Linked DNA regions of Homo sapiens: region 2 is linked to region 1. Evidence: fine-mapped expression QTL. A gene starts in region 1. The other region holds a variant in brackets. All regions are shown on one strand. Distances are between the middles of the regions. Region 1 holds the start of DIPK1A (divergent protein kinase domain 1A). Region 2 holds the start of SNORA66 (small nucleolar RNA, H/ACA box 66).

What was found. PIP is the estimated chance that this variant, and not a neighbour inherited with it, causes the effect.
Region 2: its variant is the best candidate, but not a certain one, in a credible set for the expression of DIPK1A in whole blood (TOPMed, PIP 0.56).

What each region holds. Positions count from the first base shown.
Region 1 is chr1:92,958,671-92,964,048 of GRCh38, forward strand. It overlaps DIPK1A (divergent protein kinase domain 1A), which reads right to left and starts at 2,792. Exons shown (of 5, transcript NM_001006605.5): 1 at 2,706-2,792. The coding sequence starts at 2,759. RefSeq lists silencers at 2,353-2,912, 3,073-3,152.
Region 2 is chr1:92,839,405-92,844,782 of GRCh38, forward strand. It overlaps RPL5 (ribosomal protein L5), which reads left to right. Exons shown (of 8, transcript NM_000969.5): 7 at 1,147-1,235; 8 at 2,362-2,520. The coding sequence ends at 2,461. It overlaps DIPK1A (divergent protein kinase domain 1A), which reads right to left. Exons shown (of 5, transcript NM_001006605.5): 5 at 2,763-4,791. The coding sequence ends at 3,979. SNORA66 (small nucleolar RNA, H/ACA box 66) reads left to right here and starts at 1,315; the gene lies at 1,315-1,447. The variant T/TA (reference allele first, on the strand shown) is at 3,207.

The DNA of each region.
Region 1 (5,378 bases):
ATTCTTTCAAAACATGAAATCAAACTAGTTTCCCTCATAAGAATTTGTGGCATGAATGAGCTGATAAGAGGAGGGTTTTTTGTTTTGCTTTTTGCAGAGAGACCCATCCAAATCACAGTAAACTCACTCCATGGCAAATCAAATTTAGTTAGTAATCTCAGGTTGATGCATATCTAGAAAGGGGTGGGAAAAATAAATTGTTATTAACTTTGTTAGGCATGATAATGGTATTATGATTATGTCTGAAAATATCTTTATCTATTAGAAATGTATATTGAGGTACTGAGATGAAATGATGTGATGCCTGAGGTTTACTTTAAAATACTTTGGTTCAGCCAGGCTTGATGGCTCATGCCTGTAATCCCATCACTTTGGGAGGTCAAGGCAGGAGGACTGCTTGAGCCCAGGAGTTTGAGACTAGCCTGGGCAACACGGCGAAACTCCGTGTCTACAAAAATTAAAAAAATTAGCTGGGCATGGTGGTGTGCGCCTGTAGTCCCAGCTTCTCAGGAGGCTGAGGTGAAAGGATTACCTGAGCCTGGAAAGTCCAGGCTGCAGTGAGCCCAGATGGCACCACTGCACTCCAGCCTGGGCAACAGAAGGAGACCCGTCTCTAAATAAATAAATAAATGAATAAATAAATAAATAAGTTTGGTTGGAAGAGGGAGTGGGGGAGGTGAAATGAAATAAAATACTGATGAGGGTGGCTGATGGGCATATGACAGTTCATTATTGTTTTCTGTTTTCTGAAGGTATACAAATTTCCACAGTAAAACACTTTTTTTTTTTTTTTTTTTTTGAGACGGAGTCGCACTCTGTCGCCCAGGCTGGAATGCAGTGGCACGATCACGGCTCACCACAAGCTCTGCCTCCCAAGTTCACGCCATTCTCCTGCCTCAGCCTCCCGAGTAGCTGGGACTACAGGCGCCCGCCACCACGCCCGGCTAATATTTTGTATTTTTAGTAGAGACGGGGTTTCACCGTGTTAGCCAGGATGGTCTCGATCTCCTGACCTCGTGATCCGCCCGCCTCGGCCTCCCAAAGTGCATGAGCCACTGCGCCTGGCCGTTTTTTTGTTTTTGTTTTTGTTTTTAAGAGGCAAGGTCTCACTCTGTTGCCCAGGCTGGAGTGCAGTGGCGTGATCTCAGCTCACTGCAATCTCCGCTCCGGGGCTCAAGCCATACTCCCACTTCAGCCTCCCGGAGTAGCTGGGACCACAGGCACCCAACCAACTTTTTTTTTTTTTTTTTTTTTTTTGTATTTTTAGTAGAGGCGGGGTTTCACAATGTTGCCCAGGCTGGTCTCAAACTCCAGAGCTCAAGGAATCAGCCCGCCTCGGCCTCCCAAGTGCCGGGATTACACGTGTGAGCCATCGCGCCTGGCCGGTAAGCTTTTTTTTAAACTCACATAAAAGATTACACAGAGGTACCTGGCCTGGGTTGAATTCTAGAAGGGGTTGTGACAGTGTTACTCAAGTGCACAATTACTATTGGTGGTGCTTGCTACAAAGACTCAGTTTTATTCGTACACGCTTAATATCATGGGTTGTCAAATCATGCTTCCAATTTGCAATACGTCACTCATTTCAGGGTAATGACTTACACATACAATTTTCAAACAAAAATGTAAGATTTACTTGCCTCATGATGGTTACCTTCTCAACTTTTTTCATAATTTATAAAAGCACCAGCTGACCCCAAATCATCTACCTCTTGGCCTTTTAATGTAAGCGGTAAAGGAATACTGTCCTCTGAATGCAGCGTTGGCTAACACTGCTGACCCACGCAAGGCATTGATTTGTAGTTGTTTTTCCATCGGAGTGATGGATTTGCGCTCAGCTACTCGCGGTGTCTACTAGGTCCCCCTGGTGACCAAACAGTACACTTAGGCAGTAGTAGGGTTCCAAGGCACAGACTGGCAGCGGAACAGAGGGTGGAACGGGAAATCATGAAAAATTAACACGCGAACCGTACACACGACATGACTGAGAATTACGTTTGCATTACTAGGGTATTTGGGATCCACAGACCAGCCACTAGCCCCTTTCCTTTAAAAAGCAAACACCCATCCGCCTGGTTCAGGCTTATCGGTCTCCACCTCCCATTTAAATCTTGGGTGTGATGGAACGACCCAACCAAGGGGCTCGGCACGAGGCACACGCTGCTTTTTGGAGCCTGGGGAAACACTGGTGTGACAAATTGTCATAATTTTCTAAGACACGGAGGAATGCTACACCACCTTTCCTACCACCGACTTAAGACCCAAGACACTGAGTCAAGGGCAACCGACCTGCGGGGGCCCACGGGGGAGGGGGGAAAGCCCCGAAAACACCAGGGAGAAGGCGGCCCGTCGAGCTCCGCCTGGAGCGGCGCAGGGCTGCGGGCAATGCCCGGAGCGCGGGGTCGTACCCAGGTCACGTCTCGGGGCTCTCAGGATGCGAGGGCGTACCCGGGCGGGACGACTCGGGCCCTGGAGCCCGGCTGGCCGCGGCGCGGGAGCCGCGAGGGCCGCGGTGGGGGGCGTCGGCAGAGCCGCTGAGGGGGCTGGGGAGGGCGCGCCGCCAGGTGCCGGACGGCAGGGGGCAGCGGGGTTCGGGCGGGCACAGACCCAGGGAGGGAGGAGGGGAGCGGGCGAGTCCTGCGCGGCGCGGCAGGGCACACGGCCGGGTGCTCCCGCAGCTGGTGGCTGGGCGGCCGCCGGCCTACCTGGAGGTAATAGGGTTTCCTTAGCCAGGCCCCCGGACAGAGACTCCTCGCCATGGTAATCACACATCGCCCCGCCGCGCTGCAGTCAGAGGCGGACCCGAGCGCTGGCGGCCGGGCTCCCCGCCTCCCCCCGCCTCCCCGCCCCCTGCCCGGCCGGGCCCGCCCACTCCCCCGCCCCCGCCGCGGCGCGCGCCGCGCTCCCCTCGGCCCGGCTGCAGTGAAGGCGGCGAGAGGCCAGAGGCCCAGCCTCCTGCCCTGTTCGCCCGCCGGCCGCCGCGGCTGTCAGAGAGGCTGCTGCCGACTCCGCCATAAAGGGGAGTCGCACCTCGCCTCCGCCGACACAAATCGACTGCGCCTGGAGCTTAAAGGGGAGGCGCGCGGAGGCGGGAGGGGGCGCCGCGGCAGCGGGGGTGTCGCACGCTCGGCGCGGATTGGGGCGTGCTTCTCGCTGGCTGATGCGGCGACCCCCGGACCGCGCTGGCCTCGCAGTCTGCTCCGGCTTCCGGCTCCCCGCGCTGCGCCCAGCTGCGCGTCCCGCCACCCGCCCCGGCAGCACCGACGCTCCCCATGGACTCTTCTCCTGGAGTCAGGACGTGTCTGGACGGGTTGTTTGGAAATTCAAGGGAAGCTTGGGGCTCCTTCCCTGGGGACTGGCTCGTCCTCCCTCGCCCTTGGTGGCGGTCGGGGGAAGGGGGTGTCTGCCGCAGCTGGAGACGCAGACCGGGGCATCCCCCCAGGACTGGGCTCAGCTTCGAACGCGGACAGGGCGCCCCACTGCTGAACTCGGTGCCCCCCTTACCACGCTCCAGTTCGCCTCTAACGGCCTACAACTTTTTTTAAAAATGTACTTTTAAAAAATTCCGACTTTTTTGGTTTATATTGTTTTTAAGACAGCTTCAGAGTTTTCCTGGCCCCGTCCAGGAACACTGATTTCAAAAGAAAACAAAAACAAAAACACCGAATTAAATACAGTCCTGAAGGCAGGGAGCCTGGGACGTGGCCTGCTGCTTGGTTAAGGCTACATAACACAGGGTGTGGTGTCTTTCTTTTGACAATGAGTTCCAAATAAGGGAAAAAAGAGCCACCCTAGTGGGAGAACAGCTGTTGATCCAAGTGACTTGTAATGGAAGAAGCAGCTTTTTTTTTTTTTTTTTTTTTTTTGGCTGCTTTTTACCCCACCTACCACGTTTAAGCGTGATGCTAACAAAGTTTAGGTGGCCCGTTAGAGCTCATTCCGGCCTGTTGCTCTGAGAAGGGGTTTCCCCAGAAGCAAACCATTACTCATTCTCACTTGGTTTTTGCATAAGCCTTGTTCAGGTGCCTTGTTCTGAAGAGATACCTTCATGTCTGCCCCTTCCCTCAACCCACACACAGACACAGGTTTTAAACCTAGGTGATTTTTGTTGTGGTGGTTGTTCTTTCTGTTTTTGAGAGGGGTCTTACCATGTTGCCTAGGCTGGACTCAAACTCCTGGGCTGAAGCCATCCTCCCATGTAGCTGGAACTACAGCTACTTGGTCTTATTTTATTGCTTGCAGATAAACCAATTTTTCATTGATTTTGTTTGGGTCAAGAGACAGTAATTTCTGAGTAAGATAAGGATGAATCCTAGTGGTTTCATTCATTCATTTAATAAAGATTTATGAGTACCCAGGCACCATTCAAGTTGTTTCGGTTACATAAACAAAACAGACAAAAATCCTTGCGCTTGTGGATGTGAGAGAGAGGGGCAATAAATAATAAATGTAATCAATAAAATCAAATTGGATAAGAATGCTAATAAAGGTTATGGGGAAAACACCAAGGGAGATGGGGAAGACTACAAATAGAGGAAGTTTGAGGCAAAAGAGGAGTTCAGTTTTGGAGAAGTTCCATTTTAAGGTATCTATTAGAAATTGAAGTGGAGATCTTGATTAGGCAGTTGTATGTATGAATGAGTCTAGGATTAAGGAGCGTGGTCCAAGCTAGAGGTATATGAGAGATATCAGCATTTAGATGGCGTTTAAAGCCATGAGACTGCCTAAGATCACCAAGGAAGTGAGTGTAAATAAAAGACGACTGAGGATGGAGCTCTGGGGACCAATGCAGCTTTAAGACAGGGTAGTGGGTGAGCCAGCCAAGGAGACTGAAAGGGAGCAGCCAGTGAAGTGGGAGACCCGAGTGAGGTGCCCTGAAGCCGAGTGAAGCTTGTGGATCTAGGAAGAGGGAGTGCTCCTCTGCGAGTGAGCACTGAGAATTGACTGTTGGATTTAGTGACATGGAGGCCATTGATAACCCTTCAGTGGAGCAATAGAGGAAAAACTTGATTGGAGTGGTTTTAAGAAAAAAATGAGAGGAGAGAAACTGGAGGTGGCTAATACAAACAATTCTTTTGAGAAGTTCTCTTACAAAGGGGAGCCCAAATCTGGGACAGTAGAAGCAGAGTCAAAAGAAGATTGAAAAAAAATGGGGAGAGGCCAAGCACAGGAGGTCAAGGCTGTAGTGAGCTATGATCGCATCAGTGCACTCCATCCTGGGTGACAGAGTGAGACCCTGTTTCTTTAAAAAAAAAAAAAAAGAGAGAAAGAAGGTGGTAGGGGGAGAAATACTTGTTTTTAATGGGAATGATCCGGAAGAAAAGGGAAAATTCATGTAGAAACAAGAAGTGAGAAGTGCTGGAGTGGTGTCCTTGAGA
Region 2 (5,378 bases), 120 kb before region 1:
CAGGAAAACTTCTGACATCTTTCTGGTCTAGAGGCCTTATATTACCACTAGATACTAGGGATAGATTGGTGGTAGTGAAAGACAGAAGAGAGGTCCTTGGTACATAATGCTGGGAATTACTTTTAAAGGCCTGTGAGATAAAGATGGAAAACAAAAGTCTAGGGATTGTGGGATGACAGATGAATTTGCTTGTTGGCCTGTGTCCAGTCCTTGGTCTCAGTTAAGCTATGTCAGTGTTGTGACTCTTGGTCCCATACGTTCATCATCTTAATATCTTAATACTTTTGGCACTTGTTCTTGAATGAAAGAATCTAGGTCAGACAGTATTTAAAATGAGAAGCGCAATATTTGTTTCTGCAGACAAAAATTTGATTTAGAGTGACTCAAGAAGTGTGGCTGAATTTCTCAGAAGTACATGCAGATTTTTCTTTTTGTTTTCTTACTTTTTTTTTTTGAGGCAGGATCTTGTTCTGTTTCCTGGGCTGGGGTGCAATGGCACAATTATAGCTCATTGCAACTTCAGACTTCTGGGCTCAAGCAATTCTCCCACCTCAGCCTCTCGAGGTAGCTGGGGTTATAGGTGTGCACCACCATGCCCTGCTAATTTTTTTTTTTTTTTTTTAATTTTTGGTAGAGATGAGGTCTCATTCTGTCATCTAGGCTGGGGTCCAGTGAGCTGTGATTGTGCCACTGCAGCCTTGACCTCCTGGACTCACGTGTAGTCCTGTAGCTGGGACTACAGGTGCATGCCACCATTAATAATTGCCACCTGGCTAATTAGTTTTTTTATGGAGACAGGTCTCACTGTGTTGCCTTAGCTGGTCTCAAACTCCTGGGCTGAAGTGATCCTCCCACTTCAGACTCCCAAAGTGCTTGAGATTACAGGCATGAACCACCACACCTGGCCTGATTTTTTTCTTGAGTAAGATGGAGTTCTGTAGTGATAATTCACATTGCATAAGGTGAAAATTGGGAATTTGTTAGGAAAAGGTGAGTTACATTTAGAAGTTAAAGTGTTTACCAACATTGATTTAGTTTAGTTCCTTTTGAGAATCTGGCTTAGAAGGACAAGATAAGTTATGGTTGCATTAATATAGTAGGGCACATGAAATGAAACCAAGTACTGTTTGCTTTCCTTTGTTTCAGATGGAGGAGATGTATAAGAAAGCTCATGCTGCTATACGAGAGAATCCAGTCTATGAAAAGAAGCCCAAGAAAGAAGTTAAAAAGAAGAGGTATGTCGTCTTTTTTTTTGTCTTTTCAAGAAAACAGGTTGGGAATGGTTCCCACGTGGGGCAGACTGTTGGTGTAATTGTGCAAACTCGATCACTAGCTCTGCGTGATGTGGCAGAAGCGAAGGGAACCAGGTTTGCAAAAGTAACTGTGGTGATGGAAATGTGTTAGCCTCAGACACTACTGAGGTGGTTCTTTCTATCCTAGTACAGTCTAAGTACTGGTTACTGCATTTTTTTATTGGCTGACAAGTTGCTTTTTGTTGATCTTTCATGTTTTGATCTTTAAATGGAATAGAAAGTAATACTTAATGAACATGTAAGCATAAAGTGATGTGATGGCCCACAAATACAATGTATAGTAATTAAATCAATGTATTTAACATATTCACCTCAAATACTTAACACTTTGTGGCAACAACATTTGAAATTTATTCTCTTAATTGTGAAATGTACGATATTCTATATTCATCATGCTGTGCAATAGAACTAAAAACAAAATCATACTCCTCCTGTTGGAGATTTTATACTTGACTATCATCTGCCCATTCTTTGCACCCACCAGCCTCTGTAACCACCATTCTGCTCTCTGCTTCTGTGAGTTCCATTGTTTTAGATTCTATATGAATATGAAGTATTTGTCTTTTTGTGCCTGGCTTATTTCACTGAGCACAATATTCTCCACTTCATTCATGTTGCAAATGACAGAATTTCCATCATTTTTAAAGACTGGGTAATAATCCATTATGTATATGTATACCACATTTCCTTTATCCATTTATCTGTTGCTATTAATATATAGTGCTGCAATGAACATGGGAGTGCCACTCTCTTGGACAAACTGATTTCAAAACATTTGGGCAAATACCTAGAAGTGGTATTACTGAATCTAACATGTCTTCTATTTGACTTTTGGCCCTATGGTAGTAGGACATCACAGAAGTTGGGGTTTGGGAAAGTTAGCTTAAGATCATACATAAGTAAATGTATTTGAACTTGGATTATTTAACCTTCTGATTGCAAAGTCTTAAATATTCTCTATCAAAATTAAATTTTATTAAAATTTTAAATTAAATATTCTATTCTCTTCAGTTATAGTTTAAAAAATATATATTCCTATCTTTTGTAGGTGGAACCGTCCCAAAATGTCCCTTGCTCAGAAGAAGGATCGGGTAGCTCAAAAGAAGGCAAGCTTCCTCAGAGCTCAGGAGCGGGCTGCTGAGAGCTAAACCCAGCAATTTTCTATGATTTTTTCAGATATAGATAATAAACTTATGAACAGCAACTATTTCTGTGTTAAGCTCTTATTCTTATGAACCTTATAGGAAATACCCTGAAATATTTTGGAAAAGCAAAGGAGTTGACAGGTTTTTTTCTCCAAGAAAACAAGTGTAACTAACTTTTTAAGAAAAAAAGTTGTTATTTCTTGGGCTTCTGTTTTACCTGACAGGAGTCATTATCCCTTATGTTGTATGATGAACAGCTCTCCCTAAAAATTTGGCAAGCAACAGACCAACCATCAGTGGGAAATATTTCTTCCATCCATTTATTATAACCAGATGATGAATGGGAAAAGTACCTTAAAGTAAACAAAACTGGTGCTAATCCATGGCGTTGAAGGAAAGTTTTGAGAGAAAGCTGTCCAGTGATGGTCACATAGATTTTTAACATGTTCCACTTTAGGTAGGCGAAACCTTTGAGCAGAAAATAGTGGTTCTTTTCTCCAAAAGGTGTTTAATTTTATGGAGATGTTGAAAGGTACATGCCAAATCTGAGTATACGTGTGAAAATAATATGAAAGAGGAGCAAATACTAAACCTTGTATATCAAGTTTACATGGGGAAAAAAACATTAGATAAATAAATACATTTACATGCCTCTTTAAGAAATAGCCCTTTGGCCCACAGGATATACTGTTTGAAAATGGAAAGTTATTACTAAAAAGTCTGCTATAATTTATTTTAGTCTTGCACT[T/TA]ACAGTCCCACTTTCACATAGTTCAAAATCAGGATATGTGGATCTTGATTGGGCCTTAAGATGTCAGTTTTGAAGGGCTCAGTCAGCTGCGTGATACTAAGATGGGCCCTTTGAATCTTTAGGAAAGTTCATCCATTTTTAGTCAATAAAATTGGTGTACTGTCAAGTATAAGATTTCTTGAAGTAAGCCACTTGAACCATTGTGAAGCTACACATAACTTGATGTCTGAATGAGGTTAAAAATGGGTGTATAAGTCTTTAATACAGTAAACCATGCTATTAACCCAACATCTGTTTTATAAAGAAGCAAGTTTAACCTGCTTTGCAGTCTTAATTTCTGTTAATGTGCAAACTTTACCATGCTAAGACATTAGTAAATTTATAAATTTTCTTGTTGAACAGCAGCTTCAATGCAAACACAATGCTTCCAGCATTGGTATTTTGGCTAAGGTAAATCTACAAATCACTCACTGTTGATGTTTATGGAATGAAGCTTTTCACAGCATTGGTTTTTAAAGTCAGTCAAAATAGTTACACAATGAATGTACTTCGGAGATGTAACAGGGCTTCTAAAAGGGCAGGAATGACATCTTGGGGACCTGTTGATCCTACACCTGCCATTACTTCAGTGATCACATACTGATGGCTTCTCAGGCCTGGGGGGAAGGAGTTTTGTGTAACTGGCCGGAATTTGAAGCCATTTTTTTTTAATGCTCAAAATTGTTCTTTAAAAGTGGCAGGTTTCTTAAAATGGTAATTATGTCCAAATGAACTAAGAGTCATTAGTGTAGGAAATTTTCTTCCACAATAATGTTTTTAGGTTATTTAGTATCAAAGAATGTTCCATTTCCATTTGATTTGCTGTGACTTTGAGAGCAATACAAGAATAAAGCTGCTTTTCTAATTCTTCACGAATTTCACTTGGAGCACCACGCAGTAGGTAGTCTTTGAGTAACTGACAAGCTTTTGCCAAGTTTGGTTGTATCACTTCTGAAGTACACTTCATTGTACTCTGATCACAGCTAGTTCTACAATCTGTGCCATAGACACAGTCCAAATCAGACTCACAGTGACGATCCTTAATAAGTTCTTTCAGGTTTGTCTCTGGCACAATTTTTCTCATATCCACCATTTTCAAATCATACTTATCATTATATCCTAGGTTTTTGGCACTAGTATCGCACATGAGGAAATTTCCGTAGGGGCCATGGAAAACATCTTCCACAAATTCTAGAAGTCCTATGGCTATTTTGGCCTTTCTTGGCCATGATGGTGTGAACAGCTGATCCATGCTTCTTCTGAACCCAGATGGAATAAAAAGTTCAATGACCCAAGGAAGGCTTATTCCATAAAGAGAGGTATATTCAACACTTTCCATCACATAGAGGTCACCACAGAATCCCATTAATTTGGGGGTATGTTCTTTATCTTGAAGTATCACCATGAGAAGAAATTCATTCAGTTGAAGAAGTGCCCATGCCGACTTTGCTTCTCCCAAGGAAACCTGGCCATCTTTGTCTCCATCAGCCACCGTCAAGATGAGATTAACCAGTTCAGAGAGGTTTCCTTGGTCACCCAATTTTGCCTGTCAAGAATTTGGCTAGTTACACAGAAGGAATGAAAAATACCTCCCATGCAACATACTAAGTTTCTTTACGGGCATTATTAACCATGCCAGAAATAATCTTGGTACTGAATCCCCAAACAGGAACTTAATGTATTATATCTCCAAATATTTATGATACTTCCTAAGTGAACTAGAACCATGCTTTATGTAACTGCAGTAAAACCCACTTTAAAATACTTGTCTGTTTGTTAGGAAATGGCCACTAACTCCCCTGTCCCCTTCAGGCCCCTTAGATAGTTAACCAACAATGTAATTATTCCTCATTCATACATTAAAAAACCACCGCCTCATATGTGGACTTGAAAAATTGTACTGTAATGTACTTACATCAAAGTTACAATAAGGGTCAACTAAAAATTATTTTCCTTTTTTTAGAGATGGGGATCTCACTATGTTGCCCAGGCTGGTCTCAAACTCCTGGGCTCAGGTGATCCTCCTACCTCAGCCTCCCAAAGTGCTCGGATTACAGGCATGAGCCAGCATGCCTGGCCTAATTATTTTATCCTATTTTGTATTTATCACAATAATTATTTTGTTCAAATAGT